Linked DNA regions of Homo sapiens. The protein of the gene in region 5 interacts with the protein of the main gene of each other region in a pairwise test. Each region holds a gene or a part of one and is shown on either strand. Other genes may lie near its edges. The genes, in order: RIMBP3, CEP76, DLST, KATNBL1, NEK6, IKZF3 and XIAP.

Region 1 (4,033 bases), on a different chromosome or scaffold from region 5:
CTTGTTACTTGACACTGCCTAAAGGCATGTTCTGTGGGTTCCGGGGAAACTGATTTGAAAAACTTGAGTGTTGTAAAGGAGGGCCATAAGCTGAGTGAACACAGCAGTTGTGAGAGGTCCCAGGTGCTTCCTGGGGACAGGGAGACACGACAGACCAAGAAGCAAAGGGGCCTCTGATGTGACTTCAATATCAAGGTCTTGTCGGGCACAGTGGCTCATGCCTGTAATCGCAGCACTTTAAGAGGCCGAGGCGGGTGGATCACTTGAGGTCAGAAGTTCAAGACCATCCTGGCCAACATACTGAAACCCTGTCTCTACTAAAAAGTACAAAAAATTAGCTGGGCATGGTGGCTCAAGCCTGTAATCCCAGCTACTTGGGAGGCTGAGGCAGGAGAATCTCTTGAACGTGGAAGGTAGAGGTTGCAATGAGCCAAGATTGCGCCACTGCACTCCAGCCTGGCGACAGAGTGGGGCCCCATCTCAAAAAAAAAAAAATCAATGTCTCGATGCAGACTGCCAGGTATCAGGTGTCCATCCATGTCTCCCAAAAGCCACTTGGCACCAGGAGCAGACAGGAAGGGCAAAGAGGAGCCAGACTGAAGCAGGGCTTCTTAGCTCCCAAGCCACACAGGTGGCCACCAGTCAGAGAGGCAGTGTGTGTGTGTGTGTGTGTGTGTGTGTGTATTTCTTCAGTTCAGTGTGTGTATGTATGTTTCTTCTGCAGCTCAGTGTATGTGTGTATTCCTTCAGCTCAGTATGTGTGTGTGTGTATGTTTCTTCTGCAGCTGTGTGTGTGTGTGTGTGTGTGTGTGTGTGTGTGTGTGTGTTTCTTCTGCAGCTCAGGATGCCTCCAACATTTCTGCTGAAGCCTCACCCTCACTCCTGGCCCATCCTGAGGCCTCTACCTAAGATGCCAATGAGTAGCCCAGACACTGGGGCTCCAGTGTTTGTCACCAGGTGGTACCTGGATGTGGGAGGTAGACAGGCCAGATGGCCAGTTTGGGCAGTGCCCCTCATGCCTATCTGGCCCTGGGTCCCTATGCCACCTTGCTGGGGAGGGTCTTTTCGCTTACACCTCCTCTGAGCCGACTCTGCGCAGTAACACAAATGTGTATCAGGCACATCCTTTCCTCAAAAGGTGGATGACCAGTTGGGTGATCAGGGCTGTTAGGGGGCTGAAGGGTCCTGGGGAGTCCAGGTCTAGCCAAGTTGAGGCCTATCCTGCTGCATTTTCCAGCCACCTGACCCAAATACACCACCTGAACCCACGACCAGGTATGCCCACACCCCATGGGTGGCCTTAACACACACACCCTGCCCCTTTCTCCAAGTACAGGAGCAGCAGCCCAGACTTCCCTCGGGGCACCGCGGCCTGCTTGGGACTGCACAGTGCCTGGGAGGGTGCCTGGGGAGGGTCACAAGGGACTTGGTGCTAGAAGCAGGAAAAGTGTAGGGACCGGAAAAGCCCCCGTGCATCCTGGAAGGGACATGGGCCAGTTTGAGCAGGGGTGTGGGAGTCCAGCCCTGGCCTTGCCAGGTGGAGAGGCGCCTGGGCCAGACATCCGCGGCAGGAGGCGGGGGAACATGCCAAGAGGCGGAAGGGGCACGCGGAGACCCCCAGGGGGCGCCGGAAGGGGCGCGCCGGGCGGTCGGCGGCGGCCGTTGGCGAGCTGAGGCCTGCCAGGCGAAGTCTGGAGACCAGCCGGGCCGCGGCCGCAATGGCCAAGGACTCGCCCAGCCCCTTGGGCGCGTCGCCCAAGAAGCCGGGCTGCTCCAGCCCGGCGGCGGCAGTGCTGGAGAACCAGAGGCGGGAGCTGGAGAAGCTACGGGCGGAGCTGGAGGCGGAGCGGGCAGGCTGGCGGGCGGAACGGCGGCGCTTCGCTGCCCGGGAGCGCCAGCTGCGTGAGGAGGCCGAGCGGGAGCGGCGACAGCTGGCTGACCGTCTGCGCTCCAAGTGGGAGGCACAGCGCAGCCGGGAGTTGCGGCAGCTGCAAGAGGAGATGCAGCGGGAACGCGAGGCCGAGATCCGGCAGCTGCTGCGCTGGAAGGAGGCCGAGCAGCGGCAGCTGCAGCAGCTGCTGCACCGGGAGCGCGATGGCGTGGTGCGCCAAGCCCGGGAGCTGCAGCGCCAGCTGGCCGAGGAGCTGGTGAACCGCGGCCACTGTAGCCGCCCGGGGGCGTCCGAGGTTTCCGCGGCGCAGTGCCGCTGTCGCCTGCAGGAAGTGTTGGCGCAGCTTCGCTGGCAGACTGACGGCGAGCAGGCGGCGCGCATCCGCTATCTGCAGGCGGCGCTGGAGGTGGAGCGCCAGCTCTTCCTCAAGTACATCCTGGCGCACTTCCGCGGGCACCCGGCTTTGTCGGGATCACCGGACCCCCAAGCTGTGCATTCCTTGGAAGAACCGCTGCCCCAGACCTCCAGCGGCTCTTGCCACGCCCCCAAACCCGCCTGCCAACTCGGATCTCTAGACAGCCTGAGTGCTGAAGTCGGTGTGCGCTCCCGCTCGCTAGGCCTGGTGTCCTCTGCGTGCTCCAGCTCCCCAGACGGCCTGCTCTCCACGCACGCCAGCTCCCTTGATTGCTTCGCACCTGCGTGTTCCCGCTCGCTTGACAGCACCCGGAGCCTCCCCAAGGCCTCCAAATCCGAGGAGCGGCCCTCCTCACCAGACACCTCCACCCCTGGCTCCCGGAGGCTCTCGCCGCCACCATCGCCACTCCCGCCGCCACCACCACCGTCAGCCCACAGGAAACTCAGCAACCCGCGGGGAGGAGAAGGCTCTGAGAGCCAGCCCTGCGAAGTCCTGACTCCCTCACCCCCGGGCCTGGGCCACCACGAGCTGATAAAGCTGAACTGGCTGCTGGCCAAGGCGTTGTGGGTGCTGGCGCGCCGCTGTTATACCCTGCAAGCGGAGAACAAGCAGCTGCGGCGTGCAGGCTGCCCCTACCAGGCAGACGAGAAGGTGAAGCGGCTCAAGGTAAAGCGCGCGGAGCTGACCGGGCTCGCGCGGCGCCTAGCTGACCGCGCCCGCAAGCTGCAGGAGACCAACCTCCGGGCCGTGAGCGCGCCTATACCCGGCGAGAGTTGCGCCGGCCTGGAGCTGTGCCAAGTCTTTGCCCGCCAGCGCGCTCGGGACCTGTCGGAGCAGGCGAGCGCGCCGCTGGCCAAGGACAAGCAGATCGAAGAGCTGCGGCAGGAGTGCCACCTCCTGCAGGCGCGTGTCGCCTCGGGTCCCTGCAGCGACCTGCATACTGGAAGGGGCGGCCCCTGCACCCAGTGGCTCAACGTCAGAGACTTAGACCGCCTGCAGCGCGAGTCCCAGCGGGAAGTGCTGCGCCTGCAGAGGCAGTTGATGCTTCAGCAGGGCAACGGTGGCGCTTGGCCCGAGGCGGGCGGCCAGAGCGCAACCTGCGAGGAGGTGCGACGGCAGATGCTGGCGCTGGAGCGCGAGCTGGACCAGCGGCGGCGCGAGTGCCAGGAGCTGGGCGCGCAGGCGGCCCCGGCGCGGCGACGTGGCGAGGAGGCCGAGACACAGCTGCAGGCGGCGCTGCTCAAAAACGCCTGGCTGGCGGAGGAGAATGGGCGGCTGCAGGCCAAGACCGACTGGGTGCGGAAGGTGGAGGCTGAGAATAGCGAAGTGCGCGGCCACCTGGGCCGCGCGTGTCAAGAGCGCGATGCCTCCGGCTTGATCGCCGAACAGCTGCTGCAGCAGGCGGCGCGCGGGCAGGACAGGCAGCAGCAGCTGCAACGCGACCCGCAGAAGGCCCTGTGTGACCTCCATCCTTCCTGGAAGGAGATACAGGCGCTCCAGTGTCGGCCTGGTCACCCTCCTGAACAGCCCTGGGAGACCAGTCAAATGCCGGAGTCCCAAGTTAAAGGTAGCAGAAGGCCCAAGTTCCACGCACGGCCTGAAGACTACGCAGTGTCACAGCCCAACAGAGACATACAGGAGAAAAGGGAAGCCTCCCTCGAGGAGAGCCCAGTTGCCCTTGGGGAGTCAGCCAGTGTCCCCCAAGTTTCAGAGACAGTCCCTGCCAG
Region 2 (3,500 bases), on a different chromosome or scaffold from region 5:
GGAGGCGGAGGTTGCAGTGAGCTGAGATCGCACCATTGCACTCTAGCCTGAGGACAGAGCAAGACACGTCTCAAAAAAAAAAAAAATACTATTTTATATAAGCCTTGAGTATCCACGGATTTTGTTTTGCAAGGGTCCTGGAACTAACCGCTTTGGGGTGCTATCAGCTTGACCACGTCAGAACCTTGTTCTGTTTTTCATAACATTTAAATATCAATACACAAAAAACTCAGCATCTTTATTTTCTCATGTAGTTTCTTATTTATTGTGATTTCTGTGATGTAGGGACCTACAAGTACTAAAATGTCAGAAATCAAGTTGCAGAATGAATTAGGAACAGCACCAGGACCAGACCATGGCTTTCTGGTACTACTGATGTGTTGCAATTTGCTCAGATAATACATCTTTAAAAAAGAGAAAATAAGGCTGGGCGTGGTGGCTCATGCCTGTAATCCCAGCACTTTGGGAGGCAGAGGTGGGTGGATCACCTGAGGTCAGGAGTTCAAGACCAGTCTGACCAACGTGGAGAAACTCCGTCTCCACTAAAAGTACAAAATTAGCGTGGTGTGGTGGCACGTGCCTGTAATCTTAGCTACTGAGGAGGCTGAGGCAGGAGAATTGCTTGAACCTGGGAGGCGGAGGTTGTGGTGAGCTGAGATCGCGCCATTGCACTCCAGCCTGGGCAACGAGCGAAACTCCATAAAAAAAAAAGAGAAAATGGCAGTACAAAATTAATATAGAAAAAATATTAAAATAGAAAAAAATCTTGAATTGCATGCTATTTAGTTTGTTTAGTTTGTATTTAAATACAAATGTATATTTAATTACACTTTTTGAATGACTTGATTTTAGTAAACTAATTTTATAGATTATGGGATATTTCCTAATCTGTGTTCTAAAAATGTTGATAGTATGATAACAAACAAGTAAAACTATCTTTAGGCCAGGCGCGGTGGCTCACGCCTGTAATCCCAGCACTTTGGGAGGCCGGGGAGGGTGGATCACCTGTGGTCGGGAGTTCTAGAACAGCCTGGCTAACATGGAGAAACTCCATCTCTACTGAAAAAATACAAAAATTAGCCAGCCATGGTGGCGGGCTCCTGTAATCCCAGCTACTTGGGAGGCTGAGGCAGGAGAATCACTTGAACCTGGGAGGTGGAGGTTGCAGTGAGCCGAGATCACGCCATCGCACTCCAGTGTGGGCAATAAGAGCAAAACTCCATCTCAAAAAAAAAAAACAAAAAACTATCTTTAGCCTGGGTGACAGAGCGAGACTCTGTCTCAAAAAAAATAAATAAAGGTGACAGCAGGCCAGGCATGGTGGCTCATGCCCGCAATTCCAGCACTTGGGTAGGCCAAGGTGGGCAAATCACTTGAGCCCAGAAGTTCCAGACAAACCTGGGCAACATGGCAAAATCCCTCTCTCTAAAAAACTATAAAAATTACCCAGGCATGGGCCAGGTGTGGTGGCTCACGCCTGCAATCCCAGCACTTTGGGAGGCTGAGGCGGGCGGATCACACGGTCAGGAGATCGAGATCATCCTTGCTGATACGGTGAAACCCCATCTCTACTAAAAACACAAAAAAAGGAGAATCACTTGAACCCATGAGGTGGAGGTTGCAGTGAGCTGAGATCGCGCCACTGCACTCCAAACTGGACGACAGAGCAAGACTCTGTCTCAAAAAAAAATACATATATATATGATATCATATATATGATATATATCATATATATATTTAGATTTTTTACTGTACAAACAACAGCATTACAACAGTAATGGTGAAACTTTACCTATAATTCTATTCCTAGTTTATTATTTCTTTTTATATTTTTTCTGCTGTATATGTATCATTTATTTCATAATTATAATTGTAAATAAATTTTTGTATCTTGCTTTATAATTAAGCATTATGCTATGAACATTTTTCTATGTGTTGCTACAGTCTTTCTGATTTCCTTTTTTTTTTAAATGAGACAGAGTTTTCCTCTTGTCGCCCAGGCTGGAGTGCAATGGCATGATCTCGGCCCACTGCAACCTCCGTCTCCTGGGTTCAAGCGATTCTCCTGCCTCAGCCTCCCTAGTAGCTGGGATTACAGGTGCCCGCCACCACCCCCAGCTCATTTTTGTATTTTTAGTAGAGATGGGGTTTCACTGTGTTGGCTAGGCTGGTCTCGAACTCCTGACGTTAGGTGATCTGCCCGCCTCTGCCTCCTAAAGTGCTGATTTCCGTTTTTTAATGAGTGTTTTAAGTTTCCTTGAGTCAATATACAAAATACATTTAACTATTTCCCTATTGTAGGAACTGCCAAGTTAGGCTCTTTTTTTTTTATTCAGTGGTTTTGTTGTTGTTGTTTTCTTTTGTTTTTGTTTAGGACGGGGTCTCGCTCTGTCGCCCAGGCTGGAGTGCAGTGTCACGATCTCGACTCACTGCAACCTCCGCCTCCCAGCCTCAAGCAATTCTCCTACCTCAGCCTCCTGAGTAGCTGGGACTACAGGCATGGAGCCACCATGCCTGGCTTTTTTTTTTTTTTTTTTGGTATTTTTAGTAGAGATGGGGTTTCTTGGCCAGGGTGGTCTCAAACTCCTGGCCTCAAGTGATCTGCCCGCTTCAGCCTCCCAAAGTGCTGAGATTACAGGCAAAAGCTGGCACACCTGGCCATAAAGTTAAGCTCATTTTAAATTTTTTAATGTTGCCATGAATGAACTTTCACACTGACTATCTTTGCAGATATTTTTATTTTACTTCTGAATTTTCTTTAGGACAAAATCTCAGAAATAATTGGGTCTAAAAGGTTGATTAAGCCAGGCGCAGTGGCTCATGCCTGTAATCGCAGCACTTTGGGAGGCCGAGGTGGGTGGATCACTTGAGGTCAGGAGTTCAAGACCAACCTGGCCAACATGATGAAACTCTCTCTCTACTAAAAATACAAAAATTAGCTGGGTGTGGTGGTGCACGCCTGTAGTCCTAGCTACTCAGGAGGCTGAGAATCATTGGAACCCGGGAGGAGGAGGTTGTAGTGAGCCGAGGTCATGCCACTGCATTCCAGCCTGGGTGACAGAGCGAGACTCTGTCTCAAAAAAGAAAAAAGTAAATTAAAAAATAAAAGATTGGTTATTACATTTTTGTAAAGCCACTTGAAGAACTATAAAATGCTATTTGTTTTCTTACAGTTAATTTTTTTTAAAAAACTTTAGCACCACCAAATCCAATTTTTTGGAGAAAGAAATTTCTTGGCCAGGTAAGGTGGCTCATGCCTGTAGTCCCAGCACTTTGGGAGGCTGAGGCAAGCGGATTGCTTGAGTCCAGGAATTCGAGACCAGCCAGGGCAACTTGGTGAAACCTTGTCTCTACAAAAACACAAAAAATAGCTGGGCCTGGTGATGAGTGCCTGTGGTCCCAGCTATTCAGGAGGCTGAGGCGGGGGAATCACTTGAGCTGGGGACATCAAGGCTGCAGTGAGCTGAGGACGTCAAGGCAGCATTGAGCTGAGATCATGC
Region 3 (2,664 bases), on a different chromosome or scaffold from region 5:
GGGAGCTTCGGCTTGGCCTCTCATGGACCTGGTGCTTATTTTCTTTCCTTTTTACTTACCTACGTCATTGTAGTGTTGACCTAACAAGCACTTTGTTTTCCTGTTGACACACTTCTCTGTTCCTTGGGAGATTGGAGAGGGGTCAGTGCTACTTTTGCCATCCTCAGCAGTGTCAGGGGCCCTAAAGGTCTAGAAGTAGAAGCCCTAGTCCCTCCTGTTGAGTGGTGCTCTAGGGAGGTAGAAGGCCATCTTTGTTTTGCCCAAATGTATACCTCTTCTTTTTCCCATTCTTCTCATGCCTCCCTGACTGGCTCTCATCTTTTTCAGTGGCCCCCTTCTGCTTGCCCACACATGTAGGCGGCTCTCAAAAGTTCTCGTGGCCTCTTTTTCACATTACATGCTTCCTCTGGATGTCTTATCTAACAATACAACATGGACTTTCTGCGGAAATGATTCCCAAGCCTTTATTTTCCCATTAGTTGCTAGGTGTACATTTTCAGATGCTGGTTTGCCATCTCTTGAGGTAGCATATTTCAAAGCCAGATCACCCCGCTTACTCTTGGATCTCCCCTCTTCCTCTTGTTGAGAGTTGGAAGCAGAGAATGGGTAGTATCTCTATATCCCTTTTCCTTTGCTAATTTGCCCTTTTTTGGAACATTTGTTAACCCTAGTCATTCTCTGCTAAAGGAGGGCTTGACTAGAGCTACTTAACGAGAGTTTAGTGCATACCTATCCTATGGAAGCCAGTGTGTTGAGCCCTTCTTAGGGCTGCCAAAGAAATGGATGCTCCTATGCCCAGGCTCAGTCAGGGACTTGGGAGATACTATACTTGGGATGGGAGTAAGTGGAATGCCAGCTGCCATGCATAATGCAGTGGTGTTCATGGTGGTTGGTCAGCCCACACTGTATCAAGCTCTGCAGATTTTTACTCTGTTAATGCACATATTACCTCATTAGTCTTGGCCTTCCTGGGGAGTTGTATGTAACATGTATTTTCTCTCTCATAGTGATTGACGACACAACCAAAGAGGTGGTGTATAGGGATTATATTGACATCAGTGTTGCAGTGGCCACCCCACGGGTATGTTGGGGCAGGAGGTGGGGAATGTTGGTCTTAGACCCTCACCTTATCTGTGTGAAGGAGATCACACAAGAGAAATCATTTCTTTAATTCTGTATTTTTAGAAGGGAGTTAGTAAAAGTAACCTTTTTTTTCTTTTAAACCATGCCGCATTCTTTTAACACTTTCTGTTAATCACACTGAGTAATGAAGGTATTCTAGGGAGGGCATACCATGGGTTGAATCAAGGGAGTTGTTAACTATAAAAGGTACTATTAATTTGCAACTGAAAACAGCTTTTCACCCCCTTCAGGGTCTGGTGGTTCCAGTCATCAGGAATGTGGAAGCTATGAATTTTGCAGATATTGAACGGACCATCACTGAACTGGGAGAGAAGGTAAAGTAGAAAGATGTATACAAGCTGCTAAGCAGGCGAGGGAAGAGAGCCTTCAGAAGGCTGGGCTCACTAGCAAGCAGTGCTCATGGAAAGTCAAGTGCATAGCCCCTGAGAAAAGCAGTTGCCCATGAGAGCTAAGTATTTTATATATCTGGTGGAGTTTACCATGCTCTGGTAACTGAAATCTCATCAGATGAGACCTGCTAGAAAAGATCATCTTTGAAGTCTTCAACTGTATGAAATTGTGCCTTTTCTCTGGTGGAGCACTGGTCATAGACACCTTAGCCGAACAACTGTCACACGGAAGCTAGCGCTTGTGCCATCGATCTCGATACAAGCTTTCTGGACTTCCTTTGCTTTTTTGTTTTTAGAGGCAGGGTCTCGCTGTGTTGCCCAGGCTGGAGTAGAGTGGTAGAGTCATAGCTTACTGCAGCCTTGCACTCCTGGGCTCAAGCGATTCTCCTGCCTCAGCCTCCCAAGTAGCTGGGACTACAGGTGTGCACCACCATGCCTGGCTAATTCTTAAGTTTTTTATACAGATGGGGGTCTCACTATGTTGCCCAGGTTGGCCTTGAACTCCTGGCCTCAAGCAGTCCTCCTGCCTCGGCCTCCCAAAGCGCTGGGATTATGGACTGACTTTAGGTGAAGGAAACTGGGTTGGCTTGATATTTCAATTATGAAATCTGTTTTTAGGCCCGAAAGAATGAACTTGCCATTGAAGATATGGATGGCGGTACCTTCACCATTAGCAATGGAGGCGTTTTTGGCTCGCTCTTTGGAACACCCATTATCAACCCCCCTCAGTCTGCCATCCTGGGGATGCATGGCATCTTTGACAGGCCAGTGGCTATAGGAGGCAAGGTAGGAACCGTCACTTCTAAGGTCCTAGTGGCTAGGTCTCGATGAAAGGGAAATCCAACTAAATGCTAATTGTAAAACATTAACTATAATTTCAGGCCTAAGTTCCATTTCTTAGTTTCTAATAGCTAAGGCACTGATTATCAAATTGTGGTCTGGATCAGCATCATCTGGGACCTTATTAGAAATGCATATTCTTAGACCCCATCCCAGACTTAAAGAAGAAGTGCAGATGATCCTGATGCATATTCAAGTTTGAGAACCACTGAGCTGAGGAGGCTTGTTTGCTTCTATGGAGTGGGGGATATAGTTGGAAACGTGGTCCCTTGCCCCTGGGAAACAGATGACA
Region 4 (3,500 bases), on a different chromosome or scaffold from region 5:
GCATAAGCTAATTTCCAGATGGTGATAAATGTGGTGGGGGAAAAATACAGGGTACTGCTATAGAGAATGATTGTAAGTGAGGGTGGGGTTATTCTTGATTGGGTGGTGAGTGTGTGGGAGGAATATTTTAAGCAGAAAGAATGGCTCAGCCACAAAATGGAAATAAGTTTGAAATGTTGAAGGACAGAAGGCCAGTGTGGCTGAAGCATTTAGGAAGCTATTATATAGTCTAAAGGAGTTGGTGGTTTGGTCTAGAATGGTGGTAATGGAAATGGAAAGAAACGGACAGCTTGGGAATATATTATAAAGGCAAAGTCAACAAATTGGATGTAGGTTATTAAGGAAAAAAGAAATCAAGGATGAATCCTTTATTTCAGGCTTGAGAAATTGGAAGGAGGATGGTTCCGTTTACTGAGTTAGGGACTGTTGGGAGGAGCAGATTTGAGAGGGGGGATATTAAGGGTTCTATTTTTAATATGTTAAGTTCAAGAATAGATGACTATTGGATATCCATGTGGAGCTGGCTAGTAGGCAGTTGGAGATTTGAATCCAGAGTTTAGGTGAAACAGTATGATGAGAGATTTTATTTATTTATTTTTATTTTTTTTGAGACAGAGTCTTGCTGTCGCCCAGGCTGGAGTGCAATGGCGTGATCTTGGCTTACTGCAACCTCCGCCTTCCGGGCTCAAGCAATTCTTCTGCCTCAGCCTCCCCAGTGGCTGGGATTACAGGTGCCTGCCACCATGCCCAGCTAATTTTTGTATTTTTAGTAGAGATGGGTTTTCACCGTATTAGCCAGGCTGGTCTCGAACTCCGGACCTCAGGCAATCCGCCCACCTAGGCCTCCCAAAGTGCTGAGATTACAGGCGTGAACCACCGCGCCTGGCCGAGATTTTATTCTTAAATGAAAGTTAATATGTTAATTTTTGTTATAGTTAAGTCTTGGACACAGGAGTCATATTTTCTTGAGCCTGCAAGTGATTCTTCTGTTGGAGAAGAAAGTGTTCCCTGAGAGAGGAGGCATTTTCAAACCTTAATATACGTTCTGATTTCAGCCTAGGAGATATGGTGGTGCCCAACCACTGTAACTGTTGGGGATGTAATATAATCCTCACAAGTTTTGGAACATAAAGGTTTAAGAACCGTTGTTATAAAAAGATTTTGAATGTCTCTAGTATCATTTTTGTTAATTCTTAAAGGATGATCTACCCTTTTTTCCAAGGCTTAGGGTATACTTAACCCTGTTGACTTCTGGTACTGTAGAAATTAGGCACAAGTGTCGTAGGGTGGTGACATTAGTCCAAATAATGAAGATAGAGTTTTTTAATTAATTTATATTAGCTCATCATTTTGAGAGTTGAATACTACTTTATTGGTATATCCTCTCATATGTAGAGAGTCTATTGGTTTTGAAAGTATCAGAAATACCTTTAGTAGGCAAACAAGGGTCAAAAATGATCCTTAAAGTGACAATGTTTTATGTATGTATACATTCATCCCTCATTATCTATGGGCGATTGGTTCCAGGACCTCCCAATGATATCACAATCCGAGGATGCTCAAATCCCTGATATAAAGTGGTGTAGTATTTCCACATAACCTTTGCACATCCTCCCATACACCTTAAATAATTTCTAAATTATTTGTAATATCTAGTACAATGTAAATGCTATGTAAATAGTTGTTATACTGTATTATTGGGGGAATAGTGATGAGAAAAATAAGTCTACATATTCAGTAGAGATGTATTTTTTTTCTAAATAGTTTTGATTGGGAATTGATTGAATCCACAGATGCTGAACCCACGGATACAGAGGGCCAGTTGTATATATATTTTCCATTTCTGAGTCCAAGAAGACAATTAAAACAGAATCAAGTATTTTTTCCTCCCTGTTGAATATTTCCAGAAAATACTGGGTTATTCTAACAGGGAAAGTAAATTGGAATTTGGCGAATTCACCAAAACATGCTAGAATAATCATAACCATCTACTTCTAGGCGTAAGAAGTCCTAAGTCTTCCCAAAGATTCAGGTGTTTTATAGCCATTTAAGAAAATATGTATATAATACTCTAATACATTATAATTAAGTTAAAACATACTTGCACATTATACAAAATTCAAAAGGCCCAAAAGGGAAAAGTCTTCTCCCTTCACCCCCTAGCCACACATATCCTCTCACTAGAAGTGACTTTTGTCCCCAGTTTCTCTCATATCCTTCAAAAGATATTTAGTGAATATACAAGTAGTCCCTCACAGACACACACTTTTTAACCTAAGTGGTAACATAGTGTTTTGCTACCTTACTTTTTTCTCCCTACTTTCCAGTATAAGGCATAGTTATGTTTTTTAAAAAGCCTGTGTAGGTCCACAACTATGGATGGTGATAAACATCTACCTAGTTCTTTAATTTTATTTTCCCATTATTAGTCCCAGTTCCCTAATGTAGTAATCTAAGTGGACTTGATTAAAACTGAGGAAGAGGCCGGGTGTGGTGGCTCAAGCCTGTAATCCCAGCACTTTGGGAGGCCGAGGAGGGCAGATCACGAGGTCAGGAGATCGAGACCATTCTGGCCAACATGGTGAAACCCTGTCTTTACTAAAATACAAAAAATTAGCCAGGTGTGGTGGTGTGCACCTGTAATCCCAGCTACTTGGGAGGCTGAGGCAGGGGAATCGCTTGAACCTGGGAGGCAGAGGTTGCAGTGAGCTGAGATGGCGCCACTGCACTCCAGCCTGGCGACAGAGCAAGACGCTGTCTCAAAAAACAAAACAAAACAAAACAAAAACACTGAGGAAGAGGTAGTAGGAAAGCTAATTCCCACTTGGCATCTCTTTTGTAATTTTTATTTCAGGGTATCTCAGTCATAAGAGAGTTGGAATTCAGTTTGATCCAAATTGATTGAAATGATATAGTATTGTACCCACTGAATCTCCAGACATCTGTCTTTATTTTCATGCTTGATCTGCTTTCCCGAGTTTGACGTTATTTCTCAAATCAGCTTACTGTGGAAAACTGAATTAAGAGAAAGTGGTGGGCGGGGCGTGGTGGCTCACGCCTGTAATCCCAGCATTTTGGGAGGCTGAGGCAGGTGGATCAAGAGGTCAGGCGTTCGAGACCAGCCTGGCCAATATGGTGAAACCCCATCTCTACTAAAAATACAAAAAAAAAAAACAATTAGCTGGGCGTGGTGGCACGCACCTGTAATCCCAGCTACTCAGGAGGCTGAGGCACGAGAATCTCTTGAATGCGGGAGGCGAAGGTTGCAGTGAGCCGAGATGGCGCCACTGCACTCCAGCCTGGGAGACAGAGGAAGACTCCATCTCAAAAAAAAAAGAAGAGAGAGAGAGAAAGTGGTGTGATGAATCATCATTCAGGAAATATTAAACCCTTGAGATATCAACTTTGAGTTGTTCCGAGTAGGTGAGAGGTGAAGCCAGCTGGGTTTCTGGGTTGGGTGGGGACTTGGAGAACTTTTCTGTCTAGCCAGAGGATTGTAA
Region 5 (3,500 bases):
TTGCAGTGAGCTGATCACGCCACTGCACTACAGCCTGGGTGATAGACTGAGACTCTATCTCAAAAAAAAAACAAGATCAAGAGAGAAACTGGTCCTTTTTTGGACAGAGAGGACCCTGCTACTCCTCCAGCGCCCTGAAGCTGCGGGTGTTCTCTCCCCATTTCCCCAACGCCATTCTCTCTCCCGGCCCTCCTCTGCCCAGGCTCTCAATCTTGTTCTTTAAGGACAAGTAAGCAAATCAAGGGGCTTGGGAAGCTTTGCTGGAGGATTTAAAGCCATTTCCTCCGGCAAAGCTGTGTTCAGACGGGCCCAGCGGCTCTCATGGACATGGCTCCTGTCCTGACTTTGCCGCTTGACCTACTTCCTCCATTTAGGAGGGACGCAGAAGGCAGGAAGCCCAGAACTGTGGAGCAACCGCAGGCGCAAGGATGGGTGGACATGGTATGAACCTCAGCTCCCCCAAGACTCATGCTGGGGCCCTGGCGGTTATGAGATTTTCCTCATCTGAGAGATGAAATGACAATCCCCACCCACGGGACTGTTGAGAGGCTCCATGTGCTCCTTGCATGACCCAGTACACAGCAGGCGCTCAATGCATGCTCGTTTTTCTTTTCCTTTGCAGTTCACAGTGAACTTTCATCAATAGGAGTCCACCTGGTTCTCTCTGTAACCCAGTGAGTTGAGTGCTGTTTCCCTCGTTCACAGAAGAGGGGAGAGAAGGGACTGGCCCGGGCACCCCGTCCAGATGCAGAGACCACCTCCCGAGATGCAGGTTTGACCCCACGGGTTGTCAGCTCACCTGCACCTTCTTCAGAGCCACTGTCTTCCTGTCCAGCAGGCAGGTGGCCTTGTACACCTCGCTGAACTGTCCTCGGCCTATCTTCTTTTCGATCTGGAAGTCCGCCAGCGAGCAGCGAAAAGACAGCGTGTTGGGATGCCTCTGGAACGGGGGACAGAGGGCCTCCGTGAGCAGCCAGGCTGCAGCAGAGGCCTGGGGACGACCCCTAGAGGCCCAGCACCCCAACAGCACCCTCTAAGGTGAAGGAGGGACTCTGCTGCCAACCCTGCTCTGGGAGCCTCCCAGGCACCCCCCCAGGGGGCTTTCTGCACAGGGTCCCCTGGGTCCCCTCAAGGACCCCCAGTGCAGGTGAAAAACTGAGGCTGTTCATGCTCCCCACTGCCCTCATCACCACCTTCATTGTCTGACTGCTTGTTTGTTTGCTGTCTCTGAGTCCCATCCCTGGGGGCTAGCTCCGTGGGACCACGGGCGTTGCCCGTCTCATCCTCTCCTGAATCCTTGATGCCCAAACTGGGGTCCGGTAAGCCGGGTGCAGCTCATGTATCCCCAGCCCGTGGCCACCATGCAAAATGCCCCAGGTCATCATAAGAAATGGCAAGTTCCCTTCCTGGGGCAGCCGTTCCCCATCTCAGACAAGAAAACCAAGGTTAATATTCATAGCCTTGGCCAGGTGTGGTGGCTCACGCCTGTAATCCCAGCATTTTGGGAGCTGAGGCGGGAGTTCGAGAGGTCAGGAGTTCGAGACCAGCCTGGCCAACATGGCGAAACCCTGTCTCCACTAAAAATATAAAAATTAGCTGGGTGTGGTGGCCCATGCCTATAATTCCAGCTACTCAGGAGGCTGAGGCATGAGAATCGCTTGAACCCAGGAGGCAGAGGTTGCAGTGAGCAGAGATCATGCCACTGCACTCCAGCCTGGGTGATGGAGACTCTGTCCCCCTCTCAAAAAAATGTGCAGCCTTACACCCTGAGCCCATCCTTTAGATAAACTGCCTTTTTTAGGGTGTCGTGAAGAAACCAGAGCTCCACAAAGACTCTGCAGGGGCCAGCATTGGAACACATGATCCTGCGCTAGGACCTGCCCAGGGATGGAGCCTCCAGGTGAGACCACAGTGGCCAGGAGGACCCCAGGACACCTGTGCAGTGAGCTCTCAGGAAAAGGCAGGAGGGGGCGCCAACAGTGGGCCAGGGAAGGAGGAGACAGACAAGGGGAGAGGATGCCACATCTCTGGCCTGCCCTATGGTGAGATGGGCCCGGCTGTGTCTCCATTTGCCTGATGAGGAAACTGAGGCCCAGAGGGGCCAGCCATGCCCACATCACCCAGCTCCATGCCACCGCCCCTAGTGAAGCCAGAACAAGCAGTTCAACTTTCTAGCATGAAGTGGGTCTTTGGTGAGGGTCACACTGAGCCGGGCACCGTACCGAGGCGTCTTTAGGAGCCAGCACCCTGGCGGAAGGCATCAAGACCAAACCGAGAACTACAGGACTGGCCCTTCTGACAGCTGCTTCCCCACCTGGAAACACCAGGAACTGCTGGCCGGACCAGCTGCGTCTCAGCCTGAGATGCCTGCGGAGCAGGGGCACGTCTCCTGGGCAGGTCTAAGCTGGGTCCATCAACTTCTCCTCTGTCCTTCTCCCAGAGTGCCTGAGGGGAACCTGGTTATGTGGTGATCCCTACTCTGGGACCCTGAATCATGACTTAATGAATAATAGAAACTCACTGGAAAAGCAGGGAAAAAAGTAAAGTGAAAATGTCTCTTCTAGGCCAGGCGCAGTGGCTCACGCCTGTAATCCCAGCACTGTGGGAGGCCGAGGCGGGCGATCACTTAAGGTCAGGAGTTTGAGACCAGCCTGGCCAAAAAATTTTTGTAAAAACACAAAAATTAGCCGGGTGTGGTGGTGGGTGCCTGTAAATCCCAGCCATTTGGGAGGCCGAGGCAGGAGAATTGCTTGAACCTGGGAGGCGGAGGTTGCAGTTGGCCTAGATCGTGCTACTGCACTCCAGCCTGGGTGACGGTGAGACTCCATCTCAAAAAAAAGAAAATGTCTCTTCCAGATTTGGCTGAGGGAACTCTACAGAACACCCTCCTGCGGGAGTGAGTGATGGGAGTCCAGGCCTCACAGCACACAGCAAGGTGAGGGCTGGGCCAACCTTGACTTTGAAGCCTCGAGGCCTAATTACCTCTCATGGTGGGTCCTGCCAGAGGACCCGATCTGGAGGGCTGCTGGAGGAGGAAGATGATGATTTTATCCACCATGTGCCAATGTCTGTCGGGTAAATACACCTGTACACAGAGCACCCACCTAAGAAGAGCAGGCATCCTGAGTGTCTACTGCATGCTGGGCTCTGTGCAGACACCGCCCACGCGCCCACTCTTTGGGTCCTCAGAACAACCCTGTGAGTGGGCCTCACTGCTGTCCCCATTTCAGGAATCTGAGGCTTGGAGGGGTAGCAGTGACCTGTTCTGATCAGGCAGCAAAGAACAGCAGAGCTGGGGTGTGACCCCAGGACTGGGGACTGTGGTGCCCAAGCTCTTGCTCCGTATCGGGTGGGCTCTCAGCTCAGATCCCTCCTCGGCTTTTCACTCAAGACCCCCTGACCGGCCAGGCCTGCCACTTCCTGCTCCAGCCTCCATTCTTTCAGTCACCTGAGCCCTGCCCCAGGCCCCGCCCCAGGACCCGCCACCGGCCTCTTCAAAA
Region 6 (3,047 bases), on a different chromosome or scaffold from region 5:
CCTGCGTCAGCCTCCCGAGTAGCTGGGATTACAGGTGTGCACCACCACACCCAGCTAATTTTTGTATTTTTTTTTTCGAGATGGAGTCTCACTCTGTCACCCAGGCTGGAGTGCAATGGCACGATCTCGGCTCACCACAACCTCCTCCTCCTGGGTTCAAGCGATTCTCCTGCCTCAGCCTCCTAAGTAGCTGGGATTACAGGCATGTGCCACCACGCCTGGCTAATTTTGTATTTTTAGTAGAGACAGGGTTTCTCCATGTTGGTCAGGCTGGTCTCGAACTCCCAAACTCAGGTGATCCGCCCGCCTTGGCCTCCCAAAGTGCTGGGATTACAGGCGTGAGCCACCGCACCTGACCCTCCTTAAAACATTCTAAACCTCACATTCAGTAGGGCTTGGGGAGGTGGGGGTGGTACAGGAAATAGGAGAATAATAGTGATACAGATGCTACCTGGAAAAACTTTGTTCTGTCTGTTCCTCACGAAACAAAGCCGAAAAGAAAAACTTTATGTGGATGTGAGATTTGATAGTAACACAGTGTTTCACCTGAGCAAAATTTTGTGTTTTTAAACATTTCTGTTTGCCAAAGAAATCTGAGGTTGTGGCTGGGCGCAGTGGCTCTTGCCTGTAGTTCCAGCACTTTGGGAGGCTGAGGTGGGCAGATTGCTTGAGCCCAGGATTTTGAGACTAGCCTGGGCAGTATGGCGAAACGCCATCTCTGCAGAAAAATACAAAAAAAATTAGCTGTGCATGGTGGTGTGCCTATAGTCCCAGCTACTTGGGAGGCTGAGGTAGGAGGATTGTTTGAGCCTAGGAGATCAAAATCTGAGGTCATTTTATATCTGGCCGATTTTGAGTATGGGCCTAACAAAATGTTAAGCACTGCATTTAAAAGGTGAGAAATTTTGTCACTGACAAAGTCAGAAGCTGTGTCAGGAACAGCTCACAGTGGGTCATAAAGCATAAGATTAGCTGGCTTATCTGTGCCAAGGCGAATGTCTTTTTGGGAGAATAACTTGAGGAAACTAAAGACTGATGAGTTCATTTTCTCTCTTTTTTTTTTCTGGTGGTAGTGGTGGGGGCTCACGGGAGAGACACTTCTATTTAGTTTTCTTTCCGTAGGAAGTACCGATGCAACACTTCAGGTAGTGACAGAAAACATTTGGAGAGCTGGGCATTGTTTGTGCATGCCTGTAATCCCAGCTACTTGGGAGGCTGAGGCAGGATTGCTTGAGCACAGGAGTTTGAGTCTGGCCTAGGCAACATAGTGAGACCCTGGTCCTCTAAAATATACATACATATATATACATATACAAAAAAAATAAAAATAAATTAAAAAATTAAAAAACACCTGGAGCACTGGTTCTGTTTCTTTTCCACCCTCAGCCCAGTTCTGTCACCTTGGCTGCAAGGAAACTTTGCCTGGGTTTTTTTGTTTGTTTGTTTGTTTTTGTTTTAGACAGAGTTTCGCTCTTGTTGCCGAGGCTGGAGTGCAGTGGTGCCATCTCGGCTCACCGCAACCTCCGCCTCCCGGGTTCAAGCGATTCTCCTGCCTCAGCCTCCTGAGTAGCTGGGATTACAGGCATGTGCCATCACGCCCGGCTAATTTTGTATTTTTAGTAGAGATGGGGGTTTCTCCATGTTGGTCAGGCAGGTCTCGAACTCCCAACCTCAGGTGATCTGCCTGCCCCAGCCTCCCAAAGTGCTGGCATTACAGGCGTGAGCTATCGCGCCCGGCCCTTTGCATGGGTTTGGTTGTTCCTCAGACCGTGGCCTCCTGGGTGTATGGTGGAAAGCCCGCCTGATAAGAGGCTGGTGGGAAATGAAGGAGAGGGGCCTACAAGGCTCTTGTTCAGAGGGAGTCTGCATGAGAAAGTACAGGTACTATCTGAAGCTGCTCCAGGGCTTCAGTGCCCAGCAGTGGCAGATGCAAGTCCTGACTCTGCCCTTCTGCTAAGATTCTCCTTCACCCTCACCTCCCCAGCCCTGGCAAGGGGTTTGTTAATTAGTACAGCATAAGGGGTATGTACAGAAGGCAGCGTTTATCTGTGTGATGGTAACCACTGCATATCTGGTTCAACTTCAAGACTTAAGGATGCAGAGTTTCCACACATAAATTTTTTCTGGAATTGATGGGCCCCAATCTAGGCTCAGAATGCCACAAAGAAAGTGCCTTTGTGAGTGGTCACCTTACTCAGAAAACTAACCTCAGAAGAATAGAAATCATGCAGCAAATTCATTAGTCACAGGAAAAAGGAGGATCATATCTATAAAAAGAGTCCCCAGGCTGGTGGAATGGGCCTTGGTTTCACAATCTTGAGATGCAAAAGGTGGTCTCAGGCTGGGTGCGGTAGCTCATGCCTGTAATCCCAGCACTGTGGGAGGCCAAGGCGGGCAGATCACCTGAGGTCAGGAGTTTGAGACTGGCCTGGCCAACATGGTGAAACCTTGTCTCTACTAAAAATACAAAAATTAGCCGGGCTTGGTGGTGAGCACCTGTAATCCCAGCTACTTGGGAGGCTGAGGCAGGAGAATTGCTTGAACCCGGGAGGCGGAGGTTGCCGTGAGCCGAGATCGCGCCACTGCACTCCAGCCTGGGCAACAGAGCGAGAGACTGTCTCAAAACAAAAGAAAACAAAAAAAGTTGGTCTCCTCTGCAAAGACTTGAACACTAATCTGGTGGAAAGGCTTCCTTTCCCTCGTTTTCTCTTCTACTAATCCCTGCTTCCAAATTCTCTTTCTCTTGTCCCTTGAAGAACCAACAGGATGTGCGATATTTCAAGAACGTAATGAGCAACTCCTCTTTCACAAAGGGAATAAGCAATCTGGCATAGCTTGGAGTCTAGTATTACGGAAATACAGTGATATACTGAAGACTACACACCAAAATACATCCATTCCTTTAGCTGAAGTCTCAAACATGTTGGGACTGTTGCCATGGAATTTCATAAAACCTTTTTTCCTGAGACAGACGCCATGCCACAAAGAAGGATAAGCCATTTGTGCAGTCTGAGGTGGAACATTTTAATTACTGGCAGCACATAGAC
Region 7 (3,500 bases), on a different chromosome or scaffold from region 5:
TGTATGATATATATAATATAGTATATAATATATTACATGTATAATATATTATATATAATATATAATACAATATATGTAAAATATATATAATATATAACACAATATAATATGTAAAATATATTACATATATAATATATATATTTTTCAGACAGAGTCTAGCTCTGTCACCCAGGCTGGAGTGCAGTGGTGAGATCTTGGCTCACTGAACCTCCGCCTCCCAGGTTCAAGCGATTCTTCTGCCTCAGCCTCCCAAGTAGCTGGGACTACAGGTGTGCTACCACACCTGGCTTATTTTATTTTATGTATTTATTTATTTTTCTGAGACGGAGTCTTGCTCCTGACCTCATGTGATCTGCCCGCCTCGGCCTCCCAATGTGCTGGGATTCCAGGCATGAACCACCGTGCCTGGCCAGAGATATGTGTTTATTATAGAAAATTTATGAAATAGAATAATGACGATCATATTGTCTACAGGTTGTTTTAATCCCCCCCCCCCCTTCAACATTCTATAGTTAACATTTCTGTTTTTTTTTTTGAGACGGAGTCTCGCTCTGTCGCCCAGGCTGGAGTGCAGTGGTGCGATCTCAGCTCACTGCAACCTCCGCCTCCTGGGTTCATGCCATTCTCCTACCTCAGCCTCTCTAAGTAGCTGGGACTACAGGTGCCCGCCACCACGCCTGGCTAATGTTTTTGTATTTTTAGTAGAGACGGGGTTTCACCATGGTCTCCATCTCCTGACCTCGTGATTAGCCCGCCTCAGCCTCCCAAAGTGCTGGGATTACAAGTGTGAGCCACTGCGCCCAGCAGTCTTTTTTTTTTTTTTGGTTTGGTTTGGTTTTTTAGACAGAGTCTCACTCTGTCCCCCAGGCTGGAGTGCAGTGGCACAATCTCAGCTCACTGCATCTCCGCCTCCTGGGTTCAAGTGATTCTCCTGCCTGAGCCTCCTGAGTAGCTAGGATTATAGACATGTGCTACCACGCCCGGCTAATTTTTGTATTTTTAGTGGAGGCATGGTTTCCCCATGTTGGCCAGGCTAGTCTTGAACTCCTGACCTTGTGATCCGCCCGCCTTGGCCTCCCAAAGTATTGGGATTACAGGTGTGAGCCCCCGTACCTGGCCTTTTTTTTTTTTTTTTTTTGAGACGGAGTTTTGCTCATGTTGCCCAGGCTGGAGCGCATTGGTGCAATCTCAGCTCACTGCAACCTCTGCCTCCTGGGTTTAAGTGATTCTCCTGCCTCAGCCTCCCAAGTAGCTGGGATTACAGGCGCACGCACAACCATGCCCAGTTAATTTTTCTATTTTTAGTAGAGATAGTGTTTTACCATGTTGGCCAGGCTGGTCTCGAACTCCTGACCTCAGGTCATCCACCTGCCTTGGCCTCCCAAAGTCCTGGGATTACAGGCATGAGCCACTGCGCCCAGCCTGAAGTCTTTCAAAATACATTTTTTATTTATCCAGTGTATTATTTTATACTGCACTTTCTTCATCTGTAAAGTAACAGGGTCAGGCATGGTGACTCATACCTGTAAGCCCAGCACTTTGGGAGGCTGAGGTGGGAGGATTGTTTGAGACCAGCCTGGGCAACATCGTGAGACCCCGTCTCTACCAATAATAAAAAAATTAGCTGGATGTGATGGCACGCGCCTGTGAAGATCGCTTGAGCCCGGGAGGTCAAGGTGGCAGTGAGCCATGAGGGCACCACTGCATTCTAGCCTGAGTGACAAGAGTGAGGCCCTGTCTCAAAACAAACAAACAAGCAAACAAACAAACAAAAAACCCAGGGTGGCTGGGCTTAAGGACTAGTTGATTCCAACGATTCAAAACCCATTATAATAGTTTTTAAGCCTGATTATCTGAGATTTTGTCAAGGAAAAAAATTCCACATAACAATCCCAGGCCAGGCATGGTGGCTCATGCCTTTAATCCCAGCACTTTGGGAGGCCAAGTCAGGGAGATCCCTTGAGTCCAGGAGTTCAAGACCAGCCTGGGCAACATGGTAAAATGCTATCTCTACTAAAAATAGAAAAATTAACTGGGCATGGTTGTGCGTGCACCTGTAATCCCAGCTACTCTGGAGGCTGAGGTGGGAGGATCACTTGAGCCCAGGAGGTGGAGGTTGCAGTGAGTCAAGATCAGGGCACCCCATTCCAGCTTGGGGGACAGAGCAAGACCCTATCTCAAAAAACAAAAACAGGAATTTGAGGCCAAATTTATGGATTATATATTTTATCTGCTCTGTATGTGGTTAATAATAGGTTATCCTTTATATGATAAAAACATACTTATGTCCATTTTGCAGGACTTGGCATGGGCTTTTATTGTTTTAAATTGTGATACATTTGTAGCTCTGCTGTTTGATACATTTTGGGATTTGATTTTGGTATGATTTGGTACCCAGTCTTTGTTATGGATACATGTGATTCACCTTGTTATGATATAGTTTTATGTATTTTCGAGGATATGGGTCATAGTGAAAAGTCACGTTTACCTGTACAGACTGAGAATAGCTTGATCTCAGATGGTCAGATGTTGAACCAAGTGGATTAAAGCTGATTTCTTAAACCGGACAAGGCTGCTGCCATTGTGCATTCCCTGGTACTTATAAAATATTATGGTTTGAAATTTTATTCTTATTTCTGTAATCATCTTATTCACCTTAAATACAGAAATACAGACATCTGGCTGGGCGCAGTGGCTCACACCTGAAATCCCAGCACTTTGGGTGGCCGAGGCAGGTGGATCACTTGAGGTCAGGAGTTCAAGACCAGCCTGACCAACAGAGCAAAACCCCATCTCTACTAAAAAAATACAAAAAAAAAAAAAAAAAAAAAAGCTGGGTCATGCCTCTGCAATCCCAGCTACTTAGGAGGCTGAGGCAGGAAAATTACTTGAGCCTGGGAGGTGGAGGTTGCAGTGAGCTGAGATCATGCCACTGTACTCCAGCCTGGATGACAGAGTGAGACTCCATCTCAAAAATAAAGAAAAGAAAAAAAAAACACAGACATCTCAGCATATATTACCATGTGACTTAACCTTTCTATGGTTCTAGCTAATTTTTTAGGCCTTGAAAGGGAAGGAAGCCTAACATTTTCTGCTACCTCATTGGACTGTCCCTTCTGCCAGTAATCCTTGTAGTAATTTCCTTAGACCTATATTGGTCATAATCACTGGGTGCATGACCTTTGATGAGTAACAGTCAGAACTACTGTTTCCTCATATTTCAGATGAGGCCTATGATATATTATGTAGGTTAAATTAGATTCCATATATGAAAACATTCTAAATTGTAAAGCACATTACATATGTTAGTTATTATCAAAGGTAACATCGTGAAAGAAGAGAAGATGAGCTATAGAATCACACAAGCCCATGCTTAAATTTTGACCTTACATTAAACCAAAGAGGATTGATTTTTTTTTTTAATTGAGACGGAGTCTCGCTCTGTCGCTCAGGCTGGAGTGCAGTGGCGCAATCTCAGCTCACTGCAACCTCTGCCGCCC

What was found.
Region 1: the proteins of NEK6 (region 5) and RIMBP3 interact in binary tests that used the Homo sapiens proteins (3 or more experiments, as listed by UniProt).
Region 2: the proteins of NEK6 (region 5) and CEP76 interact in binary tests that used the Homo sapiens proteins (3 or more experiments, as listed by UniProt).
Region 3: the proteins of NEK6 (region 5) and DLST interact in binary tests that used the Homo sapiens proteins (3 or more experiments, as listed by UniProt).
Region 4: the proteins of NEK6 (region 5) and KATNBL1 interact in binary tests that used the Homo sapiens proteins (3 or more experiments, as listed by UniProt).
Region 6: the proteins of NEK6 (region 5) and IKZF3 interact in binary tests that used the Homo sapiens proteins (3 or more experiments, as listed by UniProt).
Region 7: the proteins of NEK6 (region 5) and XIAP interact in binary tests that used the Homo sapiens proteins (3 or more experiments, as listed by UniProt).

The regions. Positions count from the first base shown.
Region 1 is NC_000022.11:18,609,120-18,613,152, reverse strand, and holds the start of RIMBP3 (RIMS-binding protein 3A), read left to right. Parts: upstream 1-1,233; 5' UTR 1,234-1,718; coding exon 1,719-4,033. UniProt on the Homo sapiens protein: Probable component of the manchette, a microtubule-based structure which plays a key role in sperm head morphogenesis during late stages of sperm development.
Region 2 is NC_000018.10:12,682,224-12,685,723, reverse strand, and holds part of CEP76 (centrosomal protein of 76 kDa), read left to right. Parts: intron 1-3,500. UniProt on the Homo sapiens protein: Centrosomal protein involved in regulation of centriole duplication. Required to limit centriole duplication to once per cell cycle by preventing centriole reduplication.
Region 3 is NC_000014.9:74,898,916-74,901,579, forward strand, and holds part of DLST (dihydrolipoyllysine-residue succinyltransferase component of 2-oxoglutarate dehydrogenase complex, mitochondrial isoform 1 precursor), read left to right. Parts: intron 1-1,007; coding exon 1,008-1,081; intron 1,082-1,373; coding exon 1,374-1,457; intron 1,458-2,150; coding exon 2,151-2,318; intron 2,319-2,664. UniProt on the Homo sapiens protein: Dihydrolipoamide succinyltransferase (E2) component of the 2-oxoglutarate dehydrogenase complex. The 2-oxoglutarate dehydrogenase complex catalyzes the overall conversion of 2-oxoglutarate to succinyl-CoA and CO(2).
Region 4 is NC_000015.10:34,200,097-34,203,596, reverse strand, and holds part of KATNBL1 (KATNB1-like protein 1), read left to right. Parts: intron 1-3,500.
Region 5 is NC_000009.12:124,309,949-124,313,448, reverse strand, and holds part of NEK6 (serine/threonine-protein kinase Nek6), read right to left. Parts: intron 941-3,500; coding exon 800-940; intron 1-799. UniProt on the Homo sapiens protein: Protein kinase which plays an important role in mitotic cell cycle progression. Required for chromosome segregation at metaphase-anaphase transition, robust mitotic spindle formation and cytokinesis.
Region 6 is NC_000017.11:39,760,266-39,763,312, forward strand, and holds part of IKZF3 (zinc finger protein Aiolos), read right to left. Parts: 3' UTR 1-3,047. UniProt on the Homo sapiens protein: Transcription factor that plays an important role in the regulation of lymphocyte differentiation. Plays an essential role in regulation of B-cell differentiation, proliferation and maturation to an effector state.
Region 7 is NC_000023.11:123,866,553-123,870,052, forward strand, and holds part of XIAP (E3 ubiquitin-protein ligase XIAP), read left to right. Parts: intron 1-3,500.